Linked DNA regions of Homo sapiens. The protein of the gene in region 3 interacts with the protein of the main gene of each other region in a biochemical or structural test. Each region holds a gene or a part of one and is shown on either strand. Other genes may lie near its edges. The genes, in order: NGF, LRPAP1, SORT1 and BDNF.

Evidence for each region.
Region 1: the proteins of SORT1 (region 3) and NGF form a complex in vitro, tested with the Homo sapiens proteins (3 studies listed by BioGRID and IntAct, with this or other methods).
Region 2: the proteins of SORT1 (region 3) and LRPAP1 form a complex in vitro, tested with the Homo sapiens proteins (4 studies listed by BioGRID and IntAct, with this or other methods).
Region 4: the proteins of SORT1 (region 3) and BDNF form a complex in vitro, tested with the Homo sapiens proteins (2 studies listed by BioGRID and IntAct, with this or other methods).

Annotation. Positions count from the first base shown.
Region 1 is NC_000001.11:115,335,073-115,342,558, reverse strand, and holds the start of NGF (beta-nerve growth factor precursor), read left to right. Parts: upstream 1-4,309; 5' UTR 4,310-4,355; intron 4,356-7,486. UniProt on the Homo sapiens protein: Nerve growth factor is important for the development and maintenance of the sympathetic and sensory nervous systems.
Region 2 is NC_000004.12:3,522,389-3,529,582, reverse strand, and holds part of LRPAP1 (alpha-2-macroglobulin receptor-associated protein precursor), read left to right. Parts: intron 1-4,531; coding exon 4,532-4,676; intron 4,677-7,194. UniProt on the Homo sapiens protein: Molecular chaperone for LDL receptor-related proteins that may regulate their ligand binding activity along the secretory pathway.
Region 3 is NC_000001.11:109,310,906-109,318,099, forward strand, and holds part of SORT1 (sortilin isoform 1 preproprotein), read right to left. Parts: intron 7,065-7,194; coding exon 6,948-7,064; intron 6,054-6,947; coding exon 5,945-6,053; intron 3,874-5,944; coding exon 3,767-3,873; intron 3,480-3,766; coding exon 3,356-3,479; intron 3,153-3,355; coding exon 3,138-3,152; 3' UTR 1-3,137.
Region 4 is NC_000011.10:27,690,262-27,697,455, forward strand, and holds part of BDNF (neurotrophic factor BDNF precursor form isoform a preproprotein), read right to left. Parts: intron 880-7,194; exon of another isoform or gene 845-879; intron 1-844. UniProt on the Homo sapiens protein: Important signaling molecule that activates signaling cascades downstream of NTRK2. During development, promotes the survival and differentiation of selected neuronal populations of the peripheral and central nervous systems.

The DNA.
Region 1 (7,486 bases), 6.0 Mb from region 3:
ATCTGTGGGGCAGCTGCCTGGCTGAGTTAAGAGCAAGGGCTTTGGATGGAGGGGCTGAGAGTCAGAGGAGAGGCAGAAACACAGTCCTCGCCAGGGCCTGTGCAGATTCGCTGAAACAAGAACCTAGGTAGTGCTTCGCACATAACACTCAAAGTGTTGGTGATTAAAGGAGAGGCCAGAGTTGAAACCATGCTTGGAATTATAAAATTAGTAGAAAAAAACACCTGGAAGAACAAGAGTGGAGGAGAATGTAAAGCCCCAGGACTGAGTTGTGGGAGGCCCATGAGTGCAGAGGGCAGATGAAATCAGAGAGGTGGCTAGTAAGCCAGGATAGTGTGGTCACAGGAGTTCTGAAAGGAAAGTTGTAGACAAAGGAGGTCATGAATAGAGTGGACTAGGACTGTCAAAGTCAGCTGAGCTTGGCTGAAAGGAGGAGGAGGCGTGGCATTTAACAGCAAGGGATTGGGTTCAATTCTCTACTCAGCCGTTTGGCTAGCTATGAGACCTGGGAAGTGACTTACCTCTCAGAGTTTCATCTTATCTACAAATCAATAGGACCAATTAATAAGGCTAGGAAAAATGCCTTGCCCAGTACTTGAAATAAGGCAAGCACTAGATAAATGCTGCTGAGATTGTGTTGGTGTTGGTGGTGTTCTTGCAACTAACGACCTTTAAAAAAAATTATCAGTTTAGTAGGGAGAAAGGAAAGGTAGGGGAGGAAGATGGGAACTTGGTTGCAGAAAGTTTCGGGGAGGGGGTGCCAAGGAAATGATGGGTATAGATTACCTTGCTGAAGAATTTGGTAGTGAATGGAAGCTAAGAAATCCAGAGTTTGGGCTAGCAGTTTCTTTAAGAGAGAAAAGGCAAGTGAATGTTCACAAGCAAAAGCGAGGGAACTAGTAGAGATGGAGGAACTGGAGATCTCAGCGAGAAACAGCAAAAGCCAGGAACAGGCCACAGGAGTAGGCAGGGATAGCCCAGAGGAGAAGGGGGCACCCCTGGCCCTCTCTGCACCCTTGCCTACTTTAGCTCCTTTACCAGCTTTTTCCTGTAGACTGAATTGGTCAGTTTTTCTCCCAGCCTCTTTCAGGGAGTGTAGTAAAAGGAAGGCTTGCTTAGAAGTCAAAAAGCCGGACACTGGCCACGTGTATTTGGCTGAGCCTTTGTCCTTCCTGAGCCCTTGTTTCTTCATCCATAAATAAGGTGGCTGGATTGATCATTTCTGTGATTCTGTGAACATGTCATCTCACTAAGCATTATGAAACATTTCCTCTTCTGAAGTTCTTCTTCACTCTGATTAGAAGGAAGAGGAAAAAAAAGTCTTTAAACGGAAGCTATCACTTCCTCCAGCAATTGGGACAATATTTCTGTGTTTCACATGAAGAACTAGCAGATCCAGTGATTCCATCCTTGCTGGCAGATCTCTGCTGAGCCTGCTGGTGTTTTAAATAGCACATGCACTTTGTCCTGGCCTCCTGGAATGAAGCAAGGGAGAAGCCAGGGGTTTGTGCTAGCTGACTGTTGCTGTTGATGAGGCACTCAATGGCTGCAGCCTTCTAGATCTTCAGAAATAACAACAATTACTGTACACGCCACAATCTCTCCTCCAAGTCAGCAAATGCATCAGCTGCTGGTTATTTTGATACCCTGGATAAAAGGCTCTTTCGAGAAAATCTAGTACAGAAAAACATTCTTATCCTCTGCTTGTCTGCACCATTCCTCTGGCCGCTGCCCTCTCAGCTGTTTTTCATTCCTATGAATGTAGCTGGTCCAGGCCCAGAAGTCCTTCTCTCAATGACCCAAGAGAAGGACATTTCTGTTTGAACCTTCTTGAAAGTGGAAGAGGCAGGGGAAAAGGCACCTGGCTGTGGTCTCTGTGCCAAAGGCAGGCTGATCTGGAACCTGCTGGAAACCAATCCAGTGTTGGTGGGTTGTCTGACAGTCACAAATGACTCTGACCGTTGTTGGATTCAACAAGTATTAACTGAGCACCTACTATAGGCCAGGTCCTATGCTAGGACCTAGGGAAACTGTGATAAACATGGCCAGGGACTAATAATCAAGCCCCCACTAGAACATAAGCTCTCTGAGAGCCGGTACCACTGCCAGCACACAGTGCCTGGCATATGGTAGGCTCTCAATCAATAATCTTTGGAGTATTTTTGTGTTTGTTGTTTACATGTTCTTATTTACTCAAGATCCTTGAAGTCCAGGGACAGAAATAGAGGTAGTTAGGGGCAGAAAGGAGCTCTTATTAAATCAACATGTGCAAGAAGAATATGACCAACAATTTAGGGGGTGAGGATGGAGCATATAAGCAAACTTATAATCTGCTTACATCACTTAAAGTTTCCCCCTTACATACCACATGGAAAAGAACCACAAGTGTCCCAAATCCTTTTGTCCTTCTGAATGATGCCACAAGAACACATACAAATGCTCTGCATTCAACAACCAAATTCTCTGTTATTCTAAAAGTTTAATTTCATACCCAAATTCTCAGGCAGCTATTATGTAAGGCTTGGGGCTAGTGCTTTCCAAACAAGTTTATACATGACATGATTGATGGATGAATTCATCCTGTTATCTGGAAATTCTTTTGTTTAATTGACGATGATAAATTTCCTAATGGATCACCTCGACTATGATACTACTTTTGTAGAAAGGGCCATTCACAGTGTTCCCTGGCCTCTTGCCCTCACTTCCAAAGTGTGTTCATACACCAGCCTGTATCTGAACAAGTCAGAAGTGGACAAGCCTAAGGCTGGGAAACAACAAGGTCACACCAAAGCTAAGGCTGACTTCCAATTCCAGGGCTTTTTGCCTATTTCATCCTTCTCAGAGCATGTGTAAATGGAATGAACTTTCTTATGGGAGCAAACGTGAAAATAGAAAGAAGTAAGACCTCAAGACTAATCTGAATCAAGGGAGTTGGAAATGCCTAGTCAGGGCTTCATCTTGCTCAAGTGCCATCCATTAAGGGTAAATGACCACCCCCAGACTTAGGACAGGAATCATCTGCTTCACTAAATCCCAGTTCCCTGGAGGGTGCCCTTCTGCTAAGTTGCACTGGCTGGTGTTACCAGCAATAGGGAGATTCTGTGCCCCACCTTCCCTCCCTGTTACTCTCCTCACACCTACTTCTCCTCTGTGGCATCCATACAGGGTAGGGGTCCAACCCACCTTTGCTATAGGAAGAAGCGAAGGCACAGACAAGCTCAACACGGGAGGGAGTGGGGCTGTAAATTTCCAAAGAGCTACGAATCCCCTGGAATGCTACAATTAATGATGCACATTTGGTGACAAATTTGACTTCAGGGGTATTTCTCCCTTGCTCATTTTATGCTGGGGTGGGAACAGCCCTGGCAGAGGGGCAGGGGAAAGTCAGGCAAGCTCTCCTGTCAGGCTGAATCGAGGGAACTCAAGAAATTTTGAAGGGTCAGGAAGAATTTGTGTGGGGCCTGGAGTGTGGAGAGGGGGGCATGGGGGCCTAGGGTTTGCTGGCTATATCAGTCTGGGGTCACAGACCCCTTGCAAAACTGATGAAAGCTGCGGACCTTCAGCTCAGAAAAGAATATTAGCATTGCACACAGTCGCGCAAATCAGCCTACAGTTTCAGAGGGGCCAAGGACTCCGGGAAGTTCCTGGAACCCAGGGCCTTAAGTTAAGGTCCCGGCTCTAGCTCCTGACTCCTGAAGTCCTCTGCCCCTTGTCCCCATGCTGGACTTGCCGGGCCTGGGGGCCTTCTAGCTGGTTCTGCAGCCGCCTTCCCTTGTCAGAGGAGCTTGGGCACCTGCCCCTCGCGGAGCTCCCCCTGGGTGCTCACCTATCCTGGGATAAGGAAAGGCGCCCCGAAGAAAAGGAGCAGCCGATGCCTGGGGCACCGAGGGCGACGCCGGGCAGACCAGGGAGGCACTGGCGAAGGGCAACGCGCGGGGGCAGGGCGGAGAGGTGAGGGAAGCTGCGAGCAACTCCGCCCAGCCCCAGCCAGTCGGCCCAACGACCCCTGCCGGTGCCCCAGAAACTCCCCCTCCCGGCTTTGCGCGCGCGGCCCCTCAGACCCCAGTGGGTTTCCCTTTGACCTCTGAAGGTTTAAAGTCCTTCTCTGGCTGGGTCTGGCCAGCCCTCCAGGAGCGATCCGTCTGTAGTCCCCAGGACCCCCTCCAGCCGGGCACCACAGCCCAGCCACAGCAGGTGCGGGGCTGGTGGTGGGGAGGGGAGGGATGGGGGCCAGGATTTGGAGCGTGTGACTCAGGAGTACGGGAGGAGGGGCTAAGAATTCAAGAAGCCTGTGTGAGAGCAGCTCGGCGCTCCGGCACAGCAGAGAGCGCTGGGAGCCGGAGGGGAGCGCAGCGGTGAGTCAGGCTGCCCCGAGCCGATCCCGAGAGGGGCGCAGCGCGGGCGCGGGCAGGGGTGGCTGGGCTTCGCGGGAGAGTTTGCAAGGATACCGGTCTGGCGAGCTCTCTGGTTACCCCCGAGGCTCCCGCAGGCCGAAGAGCAGCCCTGAGAAATGTCCCGAGTGGGTGTGGGGGCGCGGGACCCTCGCGGGAGGACGAGTCGGACCGAGGGAACAGCGTTAGTTCTGGTCGTGGAGTCCCTAGTCCCAGGATGGCCTGCAGTCCAGGGAGCAGCCCTGGCGCCTGCAGAAGCCCACGGCCATGCCAGGGTCTAGCTCGAGGGCTAGAAGTGGATAACGCGCAAGTGAGGGAGAGCGAATGGGCGCGGAGAGGGATGCGCCGGCAGCTGGCGCGCCAGGGCGGGAGGAGTGGCGGCCAGCACCGCGGGGGGAGCGCAGAGCGCGCTGGCTGAGGTGAGCGCCGAGTAGGGAAAGTGCTGCGCGGCCCCCAGGTAGGGGGAGGAGCGGAACGGGGCGCGCTAGACCTGGGGCAGTTCCCTCAGCGCGTCTCGGAAGGGCTGGGAGTCGTGACTGAGGGCCCCGGGGGTTAACGCAGGAAGTCTGCGAGCCAACGCCGGGGTCCGTCCGGCGTACCGGGGCCCTCCACGGAGCCGCGTTGGACAACCTCAGGTAGAGGTCGCCAAGGTTCAGCCCTGCCACTTGGGTCACACGCTTCATCTCCAGCTGTCTGCTGCCAGGTGTGGGAGAAGCGGGCGTGGAAGGTTAGGGCGGGGAGCGCCTTGAGTTCAGGCGAGGAGGATCTAGGGGAGGGAGAGAGGACTCAGGGGTCAGGGAGCTGCAACTTTGAGCCAGCAGAAACAAGCAGCTTAGCTCCCTCTAATTACAAACCTCCTTCTAAAAAAAAAAAAAAAAAAAAAAAAAAAAAAAAAAAAAACAAAAACAAAACAAAAAAAATTTCGAGATTCTTAAGGAAGGTGTTTCGTGCTTGAACTTTTTCTTCTCTTGTGATTTGAGAGATTAAAAAAGAGCCTGCTTGCTAGGCTGGTTTTTCCAAGTTGTTCCAGGTTGGAAGTTGTAACAGTTCGAAGGATAATTTATGAGTGTTTCATGCATTAAAGTGTATTACAGCAAAGCCTTTTGGGTGCTGTGGGTATTAAGGAAAACTTAGTGCACGTTCCCAGCTGGAAACCAAAATAGTGCTCTCCTGGGTGCCTCTGCCCCATCTGTCATCCAAGGCCAATGGAAATCCTGTAGAAAAGTCACTTGATTAATTGTTCTGGCTCCATCCTCTGGGCACACCCACTGCCAGTGCCAGTCCCCTCCTCCCCAATCCATGCACAGCCAGCTGCACTCTGCAAATGCAGAAATGACAGTGGAGACCCCATCAGTAACTTCTCTCCAGGGTCCTCAAACTCTTGAAGCCGTCAGTTAAGTCTGCTGGAAGGGAATCTTTCCCCTTCTCGAGGCAGTGCAGAAGGGCAGCAGCCATTGGCCCCTGCCAGCCCTTCTTATCCTGTGTTTACAGTTTCCTCCTGAATGTCTGAAACTTTCTCCCTCTGCAGAGTCACAGAAGAAAGAAGAAAGGCTGTATCAAACCTGATGGGTCTCTTTTGTTGAATAAGTCATACGTCAACCTGAGCAACCCAAATGTCAATTCATGATGGGCAGTGTTTCCAGAGGGTCAGAGGAGACAGGCGGGTCTGGGGGCTGAGACTGGCCTAGCTGGAATTGACTCACACAGAAAGTGAACATTCCTCTTGTTGAAGGGGGATAGGGTTAATGCCACATGTTGCCAAACTCCTACCCCACTCTTTCCCCAACATCTTTATGCAGGTGAAGGGAAAAAGGAAGCACCAAAAATGGGAAGCCAAGATCACTGGGGCATGAGAACACTAATTTGACAGAAGTATAGGAGCACCTCAGAGGATTTTAGAACCAGCTGCTGGCACCACTGCATTTCCAACAGCAGCCCAGGCCCACCAGAGAAATGAACTGGGCCCACTCAGGGCAGTCATCCCGGTATTGGTGACTCTTTCCCTACTTTTAACCTGTACCAAGGAATGAGGTTCTTGCCTTCTCCTATTGCCCACCCCACAACTCTCCTGCCCCAAGGGCCAGTGGGAGCAAGGAATGAGGCTTCACACTCTCATTCTCTTTCAGGGAGAAATCTGTGCCTTGGACAAGAAGGGGGCCCTGGTTGCCGACATCAGCAGGGAGAGTAGGGTAGGGCAGGGCAGGGCTGGAGCCCGAGGGAAGTTTCTCATCATTACCGAGAATAAACTGATGAAAAAAATCACACAACTTTACTTTTTAAAGAGTGCTGAGCACTCCTGCTGCTCATTGATGGAGTGCTTTACTGCAGTACCCTGCATCAGAGCAGCAGGGAAACTACACAGAGATTCAGCCACTGCTCTTCTCTACTGGGCATGGAGTAGGGCCAAGGCCCAGATCCCCAAGCAGATGTCAGTGCCAGACCTGGGAGCAGAGGCCCAGCCATTTACCTTTTCCAAGTAAGAACTTTCACTGACTTCAGAGTCTAGAGCAAGCCTTAAGAGACCTTTGCTGGCAGCAAATTCTCTGATCTCAGGAAGCAGTGGAAGGTTTGCTGACGGCTTGCATAAAATCTCTGGATATCTGTGTGCAAACAACCCATGCTCCCAGAAAACACCTTTCTGTGACACAGAAAGAGTTCCTGTGTGTTTCTTTCACTAGCTGATCTCACAAACCATCAGCTCTCAGGCTTAGCCAGTTCTGAGAAATCACTTCTGTGGTGGACCATTTTGAGAAAACAGTGTACACTGGCATTGGGTAAATAAATGAGGATGAAAGACCCTTCCCCAATCCATTCCCATGAGACATCGCTTGATAACAGTGGGAAAATAGTTAAGATCCTAACTCCAAATAGCAGTAAGGCCAGGATGATCCTGAGGCTGATATGTGAATGGAGAAACTGAGGCTTTGGGGTCCTCGGTCTTTTATTAGGCTGTGCAGAAGCATAGAAACGTCACTATTTGAGCCGAGGAGAATAAACCTTCAGCCACAAAGTTTAGTGAAGACCAGAAGAATGAAAACATGCAATGGAGAAGACTTTCTGGTGGTTCGTGATGTTTTCATTGCTCCTCTCTGGGC
Region 2 (7,194 bases), on a different chromosome or scaffold from region 3:
GAGGCTGTCCCTGGAGCTTTGGAGGTCAGAGGCCATGCAGAGCCCTTGTGCTCACAGACGACTTCTGAGGACTCTGCCTCTTCAGAGCTCTGTGTGTTGTGTTGATGCTGAGGAGTAAGCTCCAGGGTCTGCATGGTCCAGCTGCGGCGCTCAGGGACACACTCGTGTACCTCTTGGCCTGGGCTGCACGGTGCCATGAGCTCGGAGTCCTTGGCCATAGGTCCTTAGTTTTTTTGGTTTTTTGTTTTTTTGTTTTTTTTGAGACAGAGTCTCACTCTGTCGCCGAGGCTGGGGTGCAGTGGCGTGATCTCGGCTCACTGCAACCTCCGCCTCCCAGGTTCAAGCGATTCTCGTGCCTCAGCCTCCTGAGTAGCTGGGATTACAGGCATGCACCACCATGCCTGGCTAATTTTTATATTTTTAGTAGAGACGGGGTTTCACCATGTTGGCCAGGCTGGTCTCGAACTCCTGGGCTCAAGTGATCCTCCCGCCTCTGCCTCCTAAAGTGTTGGGATTACAGGTGTAGTCCCAGGAGGCACCGCACGCAGACAGTCCTTAGTTCTGACGTGAATGGTGACTGCAATGAGAGTGTGTGAAGCATCTTGTTCTCAGAGGTCTGACGAGTGGAAACTGAGGTCTGCAGAGAGGAGCCCTCAGAGCCCCACCCCAGCTCTCAAGCGTCCCCCCTGGCTTGAGAAGGGCCTCTGAGGATGGGCCAGCCAGTGGCCTCCATGGGCACCTAGGACTCGCCAGGCCAATGCATGACCTCACAGCAGCTCAAGGCGGGTACGGCTGTGCCCTTGTCCACGGAGCTCAGGTGGAAGGAGCTGGGGCACAGTGGCTGGGCTGGGACAGTGCATGCCACCTGCCGTGGTGAGACAGGTACAGCGTGCCAGGAAGCCTTGGTCACCGCCACAGCCTGCTCCTCATGGTGGGTGCCTTGCAGTCTGGCGCGGGCACTCAGGTGAGCGCTGGGAGGATGGCACATGCCCTCTGAAGAGGTGGTCCATTGGCGGTCCTGGTGGCATTGGAACCTGCCCAGCCTGAACTGTGCGGTGTGTGCAGGTTGACACCAGTGGTGTAGCTGTGGACCCTGGCCTGGGTTTCCTGGGGCGTTGAGAAGCAGCAGCAGGTTATTGGAAAGTTCCAGAAAGCTCTGCTGGCACGCGGGTGGTGCTGTGTGGGGAAGGGCCACTGCTGAGGTCCCAAGCAGTGCTGGGCCCTTGGGTCTGGTCAGGAGGACACGGTCGGCTCTGCTTGTGTCTGGGGACACAGGACCGGCGTCGTTTGATCAGCTGAGCCGGCTTTCTTGCCTGCATGTATACCCTGGTTGTTGATGATTTGCCTCGCTGCTTCATGTTTGACAGGTTCTTTTCTGCAGTTGGTTTCCACAGGGTACTTCTAACTTGATGCGTTAACATTTAACTTGAGAGAGGTGAAAGAATCCAGACGTGGGGTCTGGGGTCTGCACGTGACCTGCTGGTCTTCCTCTGCACAGAGCTGGGGCTGCTTTTTGTGGTGGTGCTGCCAGGCTGGCCCCTTCTGCGCTGAGCACTGGCAGCCACACATCAGGGGAAAGGGAGCTGGCTTTTGTGAGACATGCGGTGTGAAATTTAGACCCCCTGTTGCCTGAGAGTTGGGGAATCAGAGGGAGAAAATGACTTTCCCCTGTGGGTTGCAGATTTTACAGCCCACAGAGCACCTGCCCTTGATTCTCCCAGCACCCTAGGGAGGCAGACAGGAAGCCAGTGAGGACTGCAAGTTACAGGGGTTGGTGCCTGGCTGTGAGCCTGCCAGGATGGGCCCAGGACTTCAGCAGCCCTGGGTCTTCAGCTCCGCTTTCCAGCAGGCAGCCCATGGGCAGTCATGGGACACCTGCATCCTCTCCCCTGCAGCCAAAGAGGGCAGACCCGGGGCCCCTCAAGGCCAGCACACACTTGAGAGCATGGGCCTGAATTGCCTGCCCCAGGGTGCTGCTTCTGGCTCAGACCATCACTGTGGGCCTCGCATCTCAGACCCTCCCGGGCAGTGCAGCACGGTAAGTAAGGCGCCTACAGGGTAGCAGCAGCCACGGGGAAGTAGAGATGGAAGCAGACCTGTTCCTCCAGGAGTTTGGGTCACAAACAAGATAGGCAGGTGTGGGCTCCCCCTCCTCCTGAGGCACCGACTGCCCCTCCTGAGAGTTCAGCGTCACTCAGGTGCCTCATTGTCCTGGGTCCTCCTGCTGGGAATGCTCAGATCAGACCTCAGGTCTCCTAGGGCCTTCCAGTGGACGCCGCAGGCAAGTGTCCAGGGCACAGAGGGGCACGGGGTGGAGCTCTGGGGAGAAGGGGCTGGGTGGATGGGGCTGGCTGGGTGGATGGGGCTGGCTGGGGAAGAGGCACACAGGTAGGGGTGTGTCGAAGGCTGCCAGGGAAAGGGTTTTCAGGTTGGGACAATCCTGGAAAGCAGCCCCTGCAGAGATGGGGGCGCAGAGCATCTACCAGGAGGGCCCAGACAAAAGACTGTCCTGGGACCACCCACTAAGGGTTAGAGAACCTTCTAGAGAATTAGAAGCTTTCCTCTGCCCTAGGCCCTGCCATTCATTTTGTGCCTACCGTTTGCTATCTTTTTACCATTGGGGATCTTGGCTCAGTAATCTGAATTCATCCCTAACTAAATTTTAAACTCCTGGAGGGTGGGGCCTGTGTGGCTAGGGCAGCCACAGAGTCAGGCTGGGCTTCTGAGAGAAGAGAGGGCGGAGCTGACAGCCCCAGCACCCAGCTGGAGACAGGGCCTGTGGTCAGGGGTCTCCTTCCTCCCAGGCCCAACACAGACTGAGCTGCAGGGAGCAGGATGGGCTCAGTCTAGATACAGGCAGAGTGAGGCGAGGAGGTTCCGGAGTGTGGGGTGTGCCAAACACACAGAATTGGCTTCGTGCGAGTCTTGAAAGAAACGTGTGCCCCTGCGCGGCGCGGACCTGAGGGCTGGGCCTCCTGAGGTCTCGGGCTGCAAGGCAGTGTGGGCCACAAGGCGGCGCGGGCTGCGGGACACTGGGAAGGCAGCCGGCTCTTGACGCTTCGTGGGGATGTTCACTGTTTTACGTAAACTTTATTGAAATATAACACACATACTTTGGATACTAGCTTGTGTTGTATTTATGTTAGAAAATAGCTAATGAAATATAGATAAAAGATTAATATTTCAAACGTCTAAGGGAAAACAGACTCCATATTTAAACACACATGATCAGAGACAGGCGTTAGGTGATGGGCACCTGGAGCTCAGAGGCAGGAGCTGGGGTTCCCTCCTAGAGCCACGGGCAGCTCATGAGGACCAGCCCCGGGGGAATGTGAGAATGCAGGTGCTCAGGGAAGGGGACCCTCCTGAGAGCCGAGAGATTTGGGGATCTGCACTGCACAGTGCCGAGCACTTCCTTTGCTGCAGGACTCCACAGAGGCTTTAATGCGCTGGCGTCACTACAGGCATGCGGTGCAGCCTCCCCAGTTAGCCAGGGACAGCACCCTGTCTCCGTGAACCCTGGTCCCACCTCATGACACGTTCTGGTTCACACAGCTGGGCCACTCTGCTCTGCACGGAAGAGCCTTCGCTTCCCTGAAGGGCTAGCCTGCCCCAGCGCACGCCTCTTAGCGGCCGGGCCAGCCCCGAGGCCAGAGTTGATGAGAGCTGGCCGGTGGGTTTCATTCTGCTGCTTGCCTCGGCCGCCTGGCATTCTGGCCCAGTCTTTCTGACGTGGGGACACTCTTGGCCTAAATCCTGTCTTTGCAACCAAAAAGCAGTGTGCCCAGCGGTCACCTCACTTGCTTCCTTCTCTCACCCAGGGTCCCAGAGCTGGGAGGGCAGGGGTGGGATGAATGAAGCGTGGCCTGCCCTGCGGAGAGGGATGAGGGTGGGGCGGGGAAGTTCCTCAGCCCCAGTGCGGCAGCTCGTTCCGGGGCGCTGCCTGTGTGGTCTACGCCAGCAGGTAAGTGAGAGGGTGACAGATTCCTGCTCCAGAAGGATCTGGGGCTGTGTAAGAACCGTCTCAGCAAGACAGTTCGGATCATGGTACACTTGAGAGGTGGTGACTGAGGGTCTTTGGGAAATGAAGATGGGGCAGATCTGAGATTACAGTGATTTTTTTTAAAAAAGAACTTCTAGGTGTCTGTGTCCTTGCAATATGTATCTGCAATGGTAATGCAGTGGGTATCTTCTTCCTGCTCTGTTTATCCGAGTGCCCGATGACTGTCCTCAGGTGCTAGGGTGGGGTGTCCTGTTACAGCCGGACAGGAATGAGCAGCCGCTGCTGGTGGGGAGCCCCCGATGGACTTGGGGTTTCCGGATCGTGTATACAGACAGGCCTAGAGACTGGTGTCCATGTTGAGTTCTTGTCTAAACCTGTGGGGTTTGAATCCTGCTGACAGTGACCCTGACTCCACCTCTTCCTGGTCTCCCAGAACCTCCCGGTGGCCAGCCTCCTCCGAGGTCAGTTTCTCGCTGTGTCCTGGTCCGTCCTGCTCGTGGCTCACAGGCTCCTCCCCTTCGTTCGCAGCTGCATCTTCCTCCCGTGAGGCTGGCCGAGCTCCACGCTGATCTGAAGATACAGGAGAGGGACGAACTCGCCTGGAAGAAACTAAAGCTTGACGGCTTGGACGAAGATGGGGAGAAGGAAGCGAGACTCATACGCAACCTCAATGGTACGTTTGTTTCTTTCCTAATGCAGGTCGAGTATCCCTCTTCCTAAATGCTTGAGAGCGGCAGTGTTTTGGATGTCGGATTTTGTTTTTGGATTTGGGAATATTTGCATTATGCTTAATCTGGATATCCAAAATGAGCCTTTCCCCGAGCATCCTGAGTGCCCAGAAAGCTTAGGATTTGTGTTGGGGGCTCACCCTCATGAGGGAGGTGGCCACTGGCTTCAGTGTTTGGGGGGGCTAACCCTCATGAGGGATGGTGGCTGCTCGCCTCAGTGCTGTGGGCTACGCCTCTGACTCCTTGGCTTTTGGCCAAGGGGCCCATTGGGCACAGCCTGCGGGGGGCTATCCTCCGAGCACAGATGCGCCCTTGGCCGTGGTCTCAGTTTGCTGTCACAGATGCCATTGGCACGCCAGAGGGAGGGCCAAGGCAGGGGCTCTGGGTGCAGGAAGGGGCCGGAGGACAGCAGGAGGCTCTGTCACCCAGAGGAGGAAGCAGGTCTGCCCTAGCATCTTGAAGTTTTGGGGACATACTCCAGATGTCATCAGAATGGACACTTGGTTGTCATGCGCTTAGTGAGTCCTCGTCCCTGTGGGTATTCAAGAAGAGGCAGGACAGTCGCCTGCTTGGTACCAGCATACGGAAGACAGGTGTGTCCTCAGAGCCGGGAGGGTTTTAAATGACAGAGTTGCGACTGTTCCTTTTGGACCCCTCTCCTCCGCCATCCTCCCTCACCACGGGCCCGTCGGCAGGGCACTGGCGGGCAGAGGACGCACACCAGGTGGGCCCGTGGGACTGGGGTTGGGGCTGCTCCGGAGAGTCGAGTGCTCAGCTGCCTGCTGTCAGCTATGTGTAGCAGCCCTAGGAGCTGCTGTGCCTCCACCCAACTGCTGCCCCTGGGCCTGACCCCAGGCACCCCTTCCCCAATCCCCTCCCCCGCTGCTCCCTGTGTGACCTGGGCCCCCGGCACAGTCCCCTGCCCCCCACCTCCGTTTCCTCCTCCTGTCTCACAGGACGGTGGTGTGAACCAAGTGGGATACTCCCCACTGTGGTGGGGGTGGGGGTGGCTGCCATCGCACTTGTTGCTGTCGTGAGGGTGGCCCCAGAGCCCTGGCCATGTCTGGAGTCTGCTGTAGCCCTGCTTTTCACACGCGCTGATGGCCTCAGGCATTGCAGCGCCCGGGTTGTCTCTGGTAAAGAGAGGAGGTGTCTACGGAGTTCCTTCGTTAGGCCTGATGCTCTAACACCTACTCCTCAAAACTCGTTGTCGTCCCATTTGACAGGCTCAGAGAGGGTGATTTGTCTGGAGTTGCAGAGCCGAGTAGTGCAGCAAAGATTTGGAGTCAGGGTTTTCTGACTCCTGAGCAGGTGGTCTGTTCCCAGCCACCCCTCTTCTCCCATTGGCAGGCATCAGCAGACATGTCATGTGGCTGCGCCCGGGTTAAAGACAGAGGGCCGGCTTCATTTTTGCTGGTTTATGCCACCATGTTCAAGAGTCTGGTTGAGACGTAAGCCAAGATACGGCGGCAGGGACTGCCTGGGGAAGAGAGACATGGCTGAAACAATTCTGGATGGTTGCGTCCCCACCAGCGTGTCTAGTGGGCCATTCCCAAGGGCCAAGAAAGAGCCTGTCCTGGAGGTGCCCCCAGGAAGAAGGGACTGGCTATGCAGCAGGGCAGCATTCGGGGCCTGGAGGAGACAGAGTAGCTTGCAGGGGGCACAGAAGTGGGCTAAGAACCAGCTCCCTCCTGCAGGCCAGGCAGTGTCCTTGCAGGGTGTCCAGGTCTGTGGCCCAAGTGGAGCTGTCTTGTTTTCTGCCATTGCCTAGTGACCTGGCAGAAAACTTAGTGGGACTCTAGGAGCCGGCGTCCCAGAAGCAGACCCTGCCCACACTCAGGAAAGAGGCTCGTCCTGGCCAGTTCCCCGCCATCTTCTGGGTGTGGTCCCTGGACCCCCGAGGTCCCCCGTGCCATTATCAAGTGTGATACCATACCTGGGGGACCAGCCATAGCCAGGTGTGCCTGCCCTTGGCACCCTCCATGCTGAGGTCCACCCTGAGACAGACGGGCCACGCTCCACTCTGCCCTGCCCTGCTCTGCTCTGGGGTTCGCTCCTGTCCTCACCCCCACCGCGCCCCCAGGGCCACTTCACTCCCCAGGCAGGGAGTGTGGGGCGGCGTCCGTCCTCCCCAGGCAGGGGGTGTGGGGCGGCGTCTGTCCTCCCCAGGCAGGGGGTGTGGGGCGGCGTCCGTCCTCCCCAGGCAGGGGGTGTGGGGCGGCGTCTGTCCTCCCCAGGCAGGGGGTGTGGGGCGGCGTCCGACTTCCCCAGGCAGGGAGTGTGGGGTGGCGTCTGTCCTCCCCGGGCAGGGCGTGTGGGATGACGTCCGTCCTCCCCAGGCAGGGAGTGTGGGGCCGTGTTCATCCTCCCCAGGAGCTCTAAGGGCTCGGTGCTCCTGAGGCCGCCTCCAGCTTCAGTGCTCTGTGACTCCATTCCATGCAGAAGAACCCAGCACCTCCAGAA
Region 3 (7,194 bases):
CAGCCTGTCAAGGATGAAAGACCACCTTGGGCATGGAGAGGCCCAGAGGCAAGCATCAGAGCAAGAGAGAGGAGGTGGGAAGTCCATTCAGAGGCAGACGTAGATTCTACGTTCCAGTTACGGCTGATCTATGGACTCTCCTGAGCCCGCCCCCAGAACTGCCGCAACTCTCCAAAGGCTTTTATTCTTTGAAATAGAGTTGCCATTGAATTAAAAGCCTACAGGAGAGACGGGCCTGGTCTGTGGTCTCACTAAAGCCCAATGCCCAATTAGGTCCAGAGAAGAAAGAAGAGTGAGTTCCCTACCTGGATTTAAGAACTCGGACCACTTTGGACTGGTTTGTCCAATCTCTCTTATAATGCTAAATTCCATTGCTGAAGCCTCCAGAAATGATCTCTTCTGCTACATCAAGCCTGGGAGTTTACACAATGATACACTATGTTTTACCTTCAAAGATAATGCTCCTAACATGAGTAGGACAAATTAGAAATCTATTTTTTTAGAAGCTGTAACAGATTTGGGCTTTCTTACTCTCTGGCTGAGGGCACACATTTGTGAGTGAGCAGGTTGATAAAGAAAGCTAACTAGCCAATAATGAGAATGAGCCAGGCTGGCTGTCAGTCTTCAAACCAACAGAGCTAGCCAGCCCGGGGTGGAAACCAGGATGGGGAGGGAGACCCATCAGTGGAGAGTCCACTCCTGCACTCTTGAGCAGTGACCCTCAATGAGGGGAGGGGCAGTTTCTGCAAACGTATTTAAAATTCCCATTACTTTTGTTTTCAGCCATGAAAGACAGGAAAATACAATTTTCTGTTCACCAAGGTGGCAAAAAGGTGCTAAATACTGCTAGGAAACAAATGCCACTGATCCCTGTCATAAAGAACAGCAAGTCATCTACAAGAAGGCAGCCTTGCTCAAAGTGGTTAGCACTCGCATGTGTAAAGATTTCCAAGAGTTCTGAAGACAGCCAGCCAGCACTGCTTATCACACACACGGGGACCCTGAACAACTGACTCCATCCCAAGAACATTGTGAGGTTCAAATGACATTATGTGAGTGAAGGTGCTCTGAAAATTTGCCAAGTTCCACAGAAATCCCAGATATCATTAAAAGCGAAGAGCCCTATCGTATATGGTTAGAGAAGAATATTGAGTTTCCTACGTCTTAAAATGAGTAAGAGGATTACCATGTATTGGTGCATCTGCCCACAGTGAGTACATGCTGGGAGAAAGGTGAGTGGTATAAACAGTTCTTTTCTGAGTACCAAATTCACTTTGGGCAGGAGGGAGGGTGGGGCAGAGGCTGACGTTTTCATTTGTGAGCTGGTGTATCTTCGGAATTATTTTTAATTTTAAAACCATGCAAAATGAATAAGCAAAAAGACTAGTGCACTCCAGCCCTAACCATATTATCTTCACAAAAACTGCCTCAACTTTATTTTCTAACTGAAGCTCCCTGACTCATTTCATTCTACTGCAGTTTTAACATCTCTAAAAGTCTCCATCCACTCTCTCCCCCACTTTCCACGCAGCTGTTAATCCATTCTGGGGAGGAGAGAACTTAGCCATCTGCTCACATTCTGACTAAAGTTAATTTGGCACTTCAAATAAAAAAAAAAAAAAACACACAAAACTGACTTTCTAGCCACAAAATAAACTAGTAGCAAATGGTATCTACCAAAGAATGTCCCAGTCATAATCATTGGGAGAAACTGTGACCCGCACAGTAGCTACATTAAGACCAAAAACTTTCCATACTATATTTCTATATAGCAAATATTCAAGCTGTATTAAAACTAATTATTGCAGCTTTCCATTACTATATGGCCACCCCAAAATCCACCCAACTACATTCTATAATTTATTTAATTTAGAGAGGTATCAAATGGAAAACTTCTTTTAATCCAAAATAAGAACTTAATGTATCACACAAAGCATCATCTAGACTGGAAGTGTGTTTTCAATTGGTTCCTCCAAAATTTTCGTGTCAACAAATTACTTGGCAAAGTCAGAAAAAAGGGGTGAGAAGGAAAGCCTGGTAATAAAATTCTAATTTTTTAAGTCTATAAATCTGAAAAAATCTCTAGTCCTGGTTCCATGTACAACAGCAACCTAAGAAGCAGCAGATAGGCAGCCATTGTCATGATTTAGCAACGAGCCACACGACAGTTAAGAAGGGAACATGGAAGACTGTGAGGTTCCGTCTTCGGGGGTTCACACTGTGTACCCGACAATCAACTCTAGGGAAGAGATCATTCAGCCTGGGCAGACTTCCAGCTAAGTTTGTACCCTGTCCTTGCGTAAGTCTACTGGCACACACACAAAGCACAGCTTGAAAAATCTCAGAAGAAGCAAGAGTTCTCTTTTAATAGGTGCTATATCTAGTCAATTCTCTGCTGCTCCCTTCTTCCTGCCCCAAGTTAAAAATATTGCCCTGTAAGTTTTCCTGATGTACTGTGTGGGAAGCACATGGTTAAGTTAGTTGCCAAAGGGCAATTAACAAGGGTATTGCCTAATTAAACAAGGGAAAAGAAAAATCACTGTGGTCTGTGGTCTCTGAAAAAAAAAAAAAGAGTAAGTGGGATCTGTGTGAGGAGCTGGTGTGCAGTGTTCTTGGAGTAGGACTGTCCCCAGATGGAGAAAAGCCGGCCAGGCTGTGCCAGCCTCTGCAGCCTGTTTTCATCTCTACAGCTGTTTCGTCTCGCCAGCAGAGCCCAGGGATGGTACCAAGTACACTGTGAGAGCTGATACTGGAGTTGGCAGATGCCCTGGGGCAGGCGCCATGCAGAACACACAGAAGTGGGGTTAGTGAAAAGGTCCCTTCGAATTCCATTTCGTTTCCCTTAAAAAACAAAAACAAAAAAGCCCATACTTTGCAAAGAGACAGGACGAGAAATAAGAAGTTAAAGAATTTAAAATGTCTCCCTTTTTCTCAGAGCCAATTGTAAAAAAGTGCTCAGGGTTCCCCACCCCCACCCTGCATTTCTTTAGTGTAGGTCCTTTTGGCTTTGATGGAAGCAGCAGAAACAGAGCTGGGTCCCTCGCAATGGGAAATTTATTTCCTGAAGTTGGAGCCACAGGGAGTGTAAGAGGTACTGTGGTTCCACCATCCATGCTGGGTCCAGCTCCTCTGAAGAGCTATTCCAAGAGGTCCTGAAAAAGACATGCACCATATTACCGACAGACCACAACACTCCTATTTCAAAAGCAATCACCTAGTTTCTGGGCTTGCCAAATCTTATGGTCATTAAGTCGCCTTGGCCCTGGCATATCTTGATCATGAATAGAAGACAGACTTTATTTTCTTGTATTTTTTGGGGGGGGGGGTACTACCATTCAAGAAGAAATAGCCTCACCTCATCTGAGTCATCATGATAACCACTTTTATTAGTGTGGGAGGCTGTGTCCAAAGCATCCACACCATCCACACCATTGGCCTCTGCATGCTGCTGCAGCACAGAGTATCGATGCACCAGGAACCTGTGAACAGAAACCTCCTTAACACTCGGTGGTACACAGCAGGGGTGCACTTCTTACAGGACTGTGGACTTTCTCAGTTTTATACACTCAGGAACGCATCACAGACACAGAAAGCACAGTCCATGGTTGACATATGAAAAATGTACGACATGAGAAGATTTGGGCCTGATTTTTCAGGAACAGTACTGCAAGTACCTAGTTTTTGCCAAGAGTAGACTCAGCCATATGCCCTAGATCAGCCTTCTGGCTTGAACTCAGTACCTTGGATTGACTTCTGTGTTCCTTACCTTCCCCCACAGACATATTTCTTCACAATGAGCACTCCTGCTACGACTGTGACCAGCATCAATCCCACGATGGCCAGGATAATTGGAACAGAATTTGACTTGGAATTCTTGAGAAATTAAAACACAAACACAAAAGTTTTAGGCATGCATATCCTAGGACTGAGGTCAAGGCAGCCACTCATTCCCCTCATCTCTTTGTGAATGATCTGCAGTCCTGATGCGCTTAATGATGGCTCTTTTCCAACCCCCCAAGATGAACCATCTCAGTGTTACCAGGAGAATATTATAGCTGGCAGAGAGTCATCTTAGCTCCAACTGCCTTGAACCTTCAAATTCTGTGGTTTAAATGTCAAAGTTACACTGGAAGCCTGGGCAACTGCCTAGATCAAGTATGATTGCTTCACACTACCACTGTTCACAAGTCTTGGGGCTTAAGGGTGGAGTAGGAAAGGGAGACTACTGTAACAGTAGGCTGAATGACTCTAGAACAGGGCCATTATCTGGGAAGAAGCTGTGTCAGAAGAACCAGGCAGGCCATTATATGACACCAAGATTTATTTGTTTACTTAATTTTTTATATATTATTATAAATAAGCCTTATCATATCACTGTTTGCATGTGACCTACCTGCTTCTGGGTGGGAAATAGGGAGTGTGTGTTTTCAATGTATCCCAGAGGAGGCAGAGCTGGATTCTAGGACAAGCTGTGTCCCTGTGGGTGGGAGTCCTGTGCAATCACACACACGAACACTCTGAGGAGAGTCACCAGGAGCCCAGGACAAGGGTGCACAGAAGGAGGAACTCGCCCCCTTACCAATACACACACTCACACACTCCTCTCCCATCATCTCCTTAATCCCACCCCTTGTCAGTCCCTCATCCCTTAGAACAGCAGAGAGGAGGGACTGCAGGTGATCCAGCTTGACCTCTCCTATTACGAATTGGGAAACGGGCCTGCTGTTGAGCATCTGAAGTCATGCTGCTGGTCTAGTGTTTCATTATCAAGAGGTTTCCTCTTTACACATCTCCAGTTCCACAGGTAGTTCAGTGCTACAGATTTGGATGCAGCCTCATAACCTTTTTTTTTTTTTTTTTTTTTTAAATTGAGACAGGATCTCACTCTGTCACCCAGGCTGGAGTGCAGTGATATGATCATGGCTCACTGCAGCCTTGACCTCCCAGGCTCAGGTGATTCTCTCCCTTCAGCCTCCTGAGTAGCTGGGACTACAGGCACACACCACCACATCCGGCTAATTTTTGTATTTTTTTTGTAAAGATGGAGTTTCTCCATGTTGCCCAGGCTGCTCTCCAATTCATAGCCTCAACTGATCTCCCCACCTCAGCCTCCCAAAGTGCTGGGACTATACAGGAGTAAGCCACCATGCCCGACAGGTAACTTGCTTCATTTAAATCAAAACCAGCCCATTACCATAGCTCAATTTTTCACTTTGAACATACTTAACATGACTTGGTCAGAGATCCACCCTACCTATTGCCCAGTGCTCTTCTCTTCCACACATGCACAATTCCAGGTCATGGCCCTTCACAGACAACCTTTTTTTTTTGGTACGGAGTCTTGCTCTGTTGCCCAGGTTGGAGTGTAGCAGCACGATCTCGGCTCACTGCAACCTCCACCTCCCAGGTTCACATGATTCTCCTACCTCAGCCTCCCGAGTAACTGGGACTACAGGCGTAAACCACCACACCCAGCTAATTTTTGTAATTTTAATTTTTGTATTTTTAGCAGAGACAGGGTTTCACCATGTTGGACAGCCTGGTCTTGAACTCCTGACCTCAGTGATCTGCCTGCCTTGGACTTCCAAAGTGCTGGGATTACAGGTGTGAGCCACTGTACCCAGCCCACAGACAACCTTTTTGTTTTCCTAAATGACTCTCAGCCTCAGAAATTTCCACAACTGTATGATTTTAAGAATTTTACAACTTTACAGAATATCATCCCCCAACCCTCAATAAGAAAAGAGCTTTCAGTAGGGTGAGCTTATCACTGGGTTACATGACCCATCCTTCATGCTAACAGCTTCCTGTATAAGGGAAGCCTGAGAGAAGTAGTTTGACCACTTTTTATCAGTAACAAAACTCTTGATGCTTTAACTTTGATTTTTCTTAGCAGAACACAAAATCCCATTTGTACCTGAAAACTAGACCTATTTTAACATACCTGTTTTTCCGGACTCAAAAAGTTGCTTGTGCATTTCTTTTTCAAGTCTTTTACTTCTCGAACTGGATTTACCCCACCCTGGCATTTGTCCCCTGGAATTTTCCGGTACCTACCAGGCAAAGAAGATTTGGTAACAGAAGATAAGGATGTATTCCTGGGTACCTGCCTATTTCTTGGAAACAAGATTTGAAAAGCTGCCGAAAAGCTTCCCATCCTTACGTCATGTTTCAGGCCTGGGGGGAATGTCCACAGGGATGTTTTGGGGGATATTTTGTGTAGTTTCAGGCCTTAAGCAAACTAAGCATCTCTGTCCCCTGCTGTCAGAAACATGCCTGTTCTTTCTACCTAAGAGACTGTGCCAAAGAAATCTGACCCCAAAAAAGCTCATTAACAAGTGGTACAAAATGGGAGAGGGGAAGTTATCAGGGGAGCGAGGTAATGAGGCCCGTCTAGAGCAGCACTGTCCAATATGGTGGCTACTTAAAATTGATTAAAACGAAAATTTCAGTTCCTCGGTTACACTAGTGTCCACAGCTATGTGTGGCTAGTGACTATCATATTGGGCACAGCAAATTACAGAACACTTCCATCACCAAAGAAAGTCCTATCAGACAGAGCTCTCCCTGGCTGTGCCTAAACTGTGCCAGACGAGCGATGGACGTTCATGGCGGATGGGACGCTTCTGTCATTCTGCCTGTGGGTCCCTCGCCTCTCCTCCCTTCCTGGGGGTGGTTGGGCGGGAGGCAGGGGTGCAGGATCTGGCCGAGCTTGTTCTCCTGCTCTGCCTCGTGGTGTTGGTGGGGTTGAGTCCTCTGACACCAAGCACTCATGGCTCACCTCCTGTAGTTGACCCTTGAAGGAGGCCTTCATATCCTGCCCCTCCCCAACCCCGCCAAAAATAGTGCTCTAAAGTAGGGCTTGGATCTCAGTGTGGAGAGAAGCAGCTTTCACTCTGAACAAGAACACCTCATCCATCGTGACAAGGGAGAAAAGGCCACCTCACCCATTTGTTGTTAGGTGTTCTTCTCTTCCGTACAGACAAAACTCCAGGTCGTGGCCCTTCAGTTCTGGCTGTTCCACACACTTGGAGTCATTTTCTGGACGGTAGTAGCCAAAATCACTGCAAGAGTCAGCAAATAAAGTACCTTTCAAAGCAGCTGGAAGACCGTTAAGTGACTAGCAATGAAGGGTTATGTGGGGTAGTGGATGGTTAACATTCCAGTCTTGGGTTGTTAGAAAGTAGCTCAGGA
Region 4 (7,194 bases), on a different chromosome or scaffold from region 3:
ACAACTCTCAATGCAAGTGAATATACACAGAAATGGGCAGCAGGATGGTCATTTGCCTGTCTGTCTTGCTTGGGAGTAAAAGAGAAGGCTAGGAACATGGCTGTAGGTTTGGTACTAGAAGAAAAGTGGGACCTATTCCGACTTCCTGATCCTGTGATTTTTTTCTTTTTTTGAGATTCACACACACACACACACACAAACTATGCACAAGTTTGCTTCCATGTTGTATAGCAAGAGTTTAAATATTTCTGAGTTAATGATGCCAAACTGTGCTCCGATTATATCAGCATATTTACATGATCCTTGAACACCACATATAGATTCCTATACTACACATTTAAGCAAAATCACCTCCTGACTTCACAATGAAAGAGACCTATTGGATTAAAAAGTGGTTTCTAGTAAACCCCAAAGAGATACTGTTACTAAATTACTAAATTTAAAGGCAAAATAGTATTCACTAAACTGATTTTTCTGTCTTATTTTCCTTATTTGGCATAATCATTAACCAACTTCTAGTAAATGGAAGCATTCTCACAATTTAAGTTTTTTTAGGGGGAAACACACAATTTATAAATACTGTCAAGTGAAGAACAGATTCCTGAATACTAAAAGACCCATGCATATCCTTGTATGTAAAAAAAAAAAAAATCCATCATAAAATCATAGACTCAAACACCATCTTTGATTCAGTAGTTCTCCCTCTACTGTGGCTTCTGCTATAGAGTCATTGTTAAAAAGAGTTCTTCATGAAAGATTCTCACATAGCAAAATGCTTTAAGAAAATGTCTAACAAACATTTTTATTGTCTCAATTTGTACACAAACTGACACCTGAAAATCAGAGAGGATAAAGAACTTCAATCTTTAAAAAAGAGAGGTAAGTTATTCCAAAATGCTACCAGTCAATAATTAAAAATACAGTTTGGGGGCAAGAAGTTCTGAAATAACTCAGAGAACTTGCTCAAGATTTTACTTTTGGACCAGTCCTCTTTGGGAGGGAGTATGTGAATAGGTAATGAAAGCCTTATATGAGAGAGTCAATGGAGAGCCATATCAAGGAGCACCTGAAGATATATGGATCAATACAGGGAAAAGAAATCCAAGTAGCCCAGTGCCTGACACTCACTGGGCACTCAATTAATGCACGGTGAATTAACAAATGAATTAATGAAAGAACCATTTGCTACATATAACATTCTTACTTTAAGAAAAAAGAATTTGAAACAGAAGAAAACATACACGCAAGAACACATACAAACTATAAACTATATGATATCCTAAAGGAGATGTAAATATTAAACTGTTTGCTTTGCTGACTGACACTATTAATACCTAAAAGCAGTATGAGAGATCACAAAGAATAAGTACTCATTCATACTTGGAGTGGGCTGCTCATCTTATGGTCTAACTTGCATTTTATGTCATGGCCATGTTGCTTAATCTCCAGCTGTTCTACAGAAGAGCAAAATAAGTTATAAATAAATTATTAAAGAAAAAAAGTAACTCTATCCATGCTGAGGCCTGAGGGAGTTGGGGGAGGAGTCAATTCCTTTTAGTTTATATTTAAAAAGAGAAACTCTTTGGAAAACTGTAATATCTGAAGATTTTGTGGTTTCCAAAAGTGAAGGTGAACGGTGAGAAGTTTTCTTAGTTTAGCTACTGAACCCTAAAAAAATATAACCTCAAAAGTTAATTTCTTAAGCAATTTGGGCACCTGAATTTGATAAGAACTTTTTTTTCCAGACATTCTGTTCTGTCTAACCCAAAGGAAAAATAGCCAATTTTGAGAATCTGTATACAAATAAGGAAAAGTAAAATACAGCGCTTTGCAAAGAAATGGGAGGGATTTCTGATACTCAATTCATGATGCTAAACACTTCAAGTAGATGATTCAAAGGCAGAAATATATAACTGTTCTCATTAGGATTGTTTATGGACTATAAATAAGGAGCAGACTTATGGCCAATGCATTAGAAAAAAACAAGTACAAAGGCACTTCAGAAAATACCTTACTCCAACCTCCCATTTTAGTGTCATTTCTAAAAGGGTTTCATTTCAGCCTTCCTACCTTTCTTCCTTCCTTCCCTTCCTTCCCTCCAACGGGGTCTCACTCTGTCACCCAGGCTGAAGAGCAGTGGGACAATCACGGCTCACTGCAGCCCCAACCTCCTGGGCTCAAACGATCCTACTGCCTCAGCCTCCCAAGTAGCTGGGACTACAAGTGCCTGTCACCAGGCTTGGATAATTTTTTTTGTCTTTTGTAAAGATGGGGTCTTGCTATGTTGTCCAGACTCGTAATGATCTCCTGGGCTCAAGTGATCCTCCCACCTCAGCCTCCCAGAGTGCTGGGATTACAGGCATGAGCCACCACACCAGACCTCTTTTTTCTTTATTATATATTCCTCTAATAAAGTGCTCTGTATGCAGTGAGCATTCAATATTTGCTAAATTAAATTAATGGAAAGTTTTCTAACTACCATGTAGAGTATCTAAATTTACATCATTGGTTCTAGAACTGCTGTCTGAAGCAACACAAATTACACTTATGACAGTTCGTCAAATCTTTGAAGCCCATCCTCAAAATAAGGATGTCAAAAATACATCACACATGTTGACACTCTAATCTCCCAGCCACAGTAGGCATTAGCAATCTGAATGTTATTTTTACTAATCCTTCACAGTTTTAGAATTCTTCTCAACCCAACATTCAAAAACCACTTGCCATTCCAGCCTAAGTTTTCTTGTCCCTAAGTCATGCATTCCAAGTCCCCTCAACCATTGCTCACATGCAATGCTTTCAAATTCCCTATGCATCCTGGTCACAGTGATTTGAATGTACACTAATTTATCGATGATGTACCTAAAACAACTTATTTCATTTCCTTGAACTGATGATAATATTCTAGATACAGTCTATTTAAAAAGTGAAGAATTATTAGCTTCTCCATTTCAGTATTATATTTCTAGCAGTGCAGCCCAAAATTTCAGTAGCTATGATAACAGCCTCTTGTCACACCACTGGCTTATACTGAACTTGCAGTTAATTTAAAACATTCAAGCTTCCTTTCTACAATCTGCTGATAAGTCATCCCCTAAAACCGTGCCCGCAACTCTCTATTCTCTCCTAAATTGATTTTTTTGTACTTAATCATAGTATTTTACATTTAAGTAAATGTAAATGATCCAGATTCTATCATTCAACAGAATGTCTGCAATATCTGCTGGCTTTATGTTTCATATGATAAGCATATCGTCTGTGCCTTCAGACACATTATCAGCCAACATGTCGGTGCTGGATGTATTTTCCCAATGTTGCATAAGAGGAATACCTTCGAGAGTTTGGCCTAGGAATGTGGCCTGGGACTCCGCCAAGCATCTCTCTCCAGCAAAATGACTGCAAATTTCTCGACCTTCAGATTCTACATGATGTAAAAGAAGTTTGTCTGTGTTTAAAAACACATTCAAGAAATAAGTGAACATGTGAAAAGACAGAAAAACTTGTTTTAATTTGGGCATAGTTTCAGTTTTCAAAGGCACATGAAGGCAGAAAGAAAGAATCACAAAATGGAACTACTGATGATAGCAACTCCAAAACCAAGACTGATTAGACTAAATCCCATGTGGCAAAAATTTTATTTAGTAAGTTTCCTTCTCCCTCTCTCCCTTTAGATATATGTGCATACACACACACGCACCTTTATTTTAGTAATTTTTTTTTTCTGAAAAAGAAAGTTTTCTGCACCTGATTGCTTCCATGAATAACACAAAGCACAAACAATATGACTTTCTTTGGTTATCATGCAATTTTTTCTCTGCTTACCAGAAATTGGCACAAATTTAAGATATACTATATTCTACTCCCTGAAGCACAGTCGCTGGCATCTCCACTGGCATTTAAAAATTTGAAGACATTTAAAAGAAAATCCACAAGCTTATAGTTGCTGTCTAAATCAACTTTAACATTTCATATATTCACAATTTCATAAGTGAATCAAATTACACATAAGAAATTATAGAACTAAGCCAACTAAATGACTTTTATAATAGGTACTGGGGAAAAATATTATTAAACCTTTTCCTCCAATTTCTGCCTTTCTTCCAGCAAGACAAACCATTTTCATGAAGTTTCTGTCTACATCACTAGTGATAATCTGAAGCAGCCATTAATCAATCTATTAGTGCATTCAGCAACATTTATCAAAGTGCCTCCCCAGAACTGTTTTGGATGCTGTTGTGGGCGCATGCAAAAATGAACTAAATATAGATTTTTGTCATCCAAGAATTTTAAGTCAATTTGTAATTATTGGTTCCTGGTTCCATAACTTTTTTTTTTTTTTTTTTTGGTGCTGGCTCAGATGTATACCTTCATCTATTCTAAGGTTAAGGCAATCCTTATAATTTTCTTCCTTTTTCTTGTTTGTTTGTTTTTTGTGTGTGTGTTTAAAATCTTGCTTATATTTGACTTTATTTTATTCTCACATCTTCTGAGTACATTAAAGTTAAAGGTAGATCATAAATCGAAAACATTCTTAAAGGTCTCTCTACTCAAATTATTTGGTGTTATTGTATCTCAGAAAGTATAATGAATTGCCTGTAGCAAATAAATAAAATCAGAACCTTTATACTCAATGGTTCGGTTTGGTACATATCCATGAAAATAATAAATGTTAAAAAGGATGCTAGCCGTTGATTCCTGGCATGCTATTCTACATTTGGCTACATTACAACGTTAAAAGGATTTAGTGCATATATCAAATTGTGGATCTGCTTGTTTTAAAATTTCATCTGTAATTCCACATGCAACCCCCACCCCCATACACACTCACAAGATCTGAATATGGTAACAAGGAAATCCTAGTAACTGTAGCGTTGGAAAAATGGTTCATATGGAAATAAGCCATTTGGCTAGTAAAGCTGGTGATTTTGTTCTCTAGGTGGCACTATTACTTCAATTTTTGGTGAGTTGCTTAAATTACTTGGAACTGCCCGTTTATTTTCTTTGAATTCCCATTTTATAAATTTTAATTTTATACAAGCTAGTTGTAATTAAACGACAGGTTGCCTTCTAGGTTTTATTTCAGTAAGTCAATTTGAAGTTCAGTGATTTTTTATCATATAATTTTATGTTTCCTTACTATACTGTCTTAGTTTTAAGAAATCCTCCCTTGCCTGACCTCCTCTCTCCAAAAATGCAGAGGCATGTCAAAAACACAGAGGGTCGTCATAAAGTTTCCGTCAGACCAAAGGAACCAAGATGAAAGCATGTTTAAGAGCTACTAGGTTCTGGGAGATTTCAAAATCAGGACATTACTACCATGACAACCAATGAAAAGTTCTTTCAAGTGAACCTTTGGGGAAAACTATATAACGTTCCTTACTCTCTAGGCTCTCTGGAAATAAACTTTTACTTTATTATGGCTGTCACTAAAGCTTGTAAATTTACTTTGCTTCCTTCCAATCGTTCTCCTGTCCCACACTCAGCCCCCTAACTCACTTAATGCAACCCATCCTCAAACATCAATCTATAAATGAGACATCAGGGCAATGAGCCACTTCTTAGCATCTAGTATATTTGATAAGATTTGTCTCATCAAGAGGATAAGTGCCCTAGAGCTTCTACTTGAACTTAAATACTTAATTTAAATGAAAGCTTCCACACTTATCTGACCAGATACTCAAATTTTTCTACAGAAAAGAGAATACCTTCCTGTTCCACTTAAAGAACACACACATTTACCACTCCCCCTCCTCTCCCCTGCAAAAGGTTTTCAATGTCAGTACATTAGTGAGCTCCATTTTGCATCTGCCATCAATAATGATTCCATATAGTCAATAATTGGGTTCATGACCTTTCTAAATCTTTACAGTGTAAATATTCTGGAAATCCAGTGAGGCACTTAAGTATAAAATTATTTAGGATTAAATAATTCTATGCCTTAAGTAGAAGTTTAAGAGGACGTTTAGGACACACATGACTAAGCCTACAAATACCAAAGCCACTCTATGTTTCCTAGGTTTAAATACCACATGCAAATAACATACGGATTTCATTTGCCAGCATCATTTATTGCCTAACATTACTCCATACTAAACAGAGTAAATGGATGCAGAGTGTAACCAGTAAGTTTGCTCATTCACTTTTGAAGCTCATCTGTGCATGTTATTCATCCTAATAAAGAAAATTTATCACAACACAACTTGATGCGATTCTTGTTCAAATGATTTCCTCTTCCATTGAACAACAGCCAGCACTTAAAACCTAGAATTCCACAGAATTCTCTCCTCGATTCCTCTTTAAAATGCAATTCACAGTTTGAGATCACAGAGCCTGCCAGTGGCTGAATGGCTGCACTAGATGGCTGAGAGTCCTTCAATTAAGCAACAATTTTGCAATTAGTGGAAACTGAGTGCTCTATAACAATTGTTTGAAAACAAGTTGAGACAAGTTAGCAATTACCCTATAAAAGGGACATATTCACTTTTGTTGGATAGGCGAGACCCCTCACACAAATTGAACTCTTCCACACAGGGAGATGCAAGTTGAAAATTAATGTTTTAATCACTAAAATCAAATCCATATTATGGGCACCTGAAATGGGAGTGCCTTTCTTCTCAAAAGATATTCAGAGTTTAGCTATCATCCACTCTCTATGCTGTCTGTTTTTATTCAGGAAGTCTGAAATTGTTCTTCTGTACTCCGGGATTAATTTCCTACATCTCAAAATGTTAATAAACTACTTGAACATGACCTTTCCATTCTGTAAATTTCCTTAAGAGTAAGTCTACGATTGAGACCCAAAGCTGCTGGCTGTGTTATATTTCACAGTTCACAGTTCTCTCTCTCTCTCTCTCCCCCTCTACACACACGCGCACGTGCACGCACACACACACACACACACACAGAGAGAGAGAGAGAGAGAGAGAGAGAGAGAGCACCCCAGGTTTTAGAAGATGAATGTAAAAAGAATGTAAACAAGTTCTCTGCTATACTATCAGGTGGGCGTGCCCAGCTCACTGTGCGTGCTGAACTACAAACCAGTGCTATTCATATAAGAAATGATATCAATCATCTACATTTTGACTATTGAAAAGCTGGGACTCTTAAAGATTCCAGGAAAAAGGGAATAGCTTACATTTTCATGGCGCCCCTTTTAAACAGGAAACCCACGGACTTTGAGCCAGGATTTTAGAA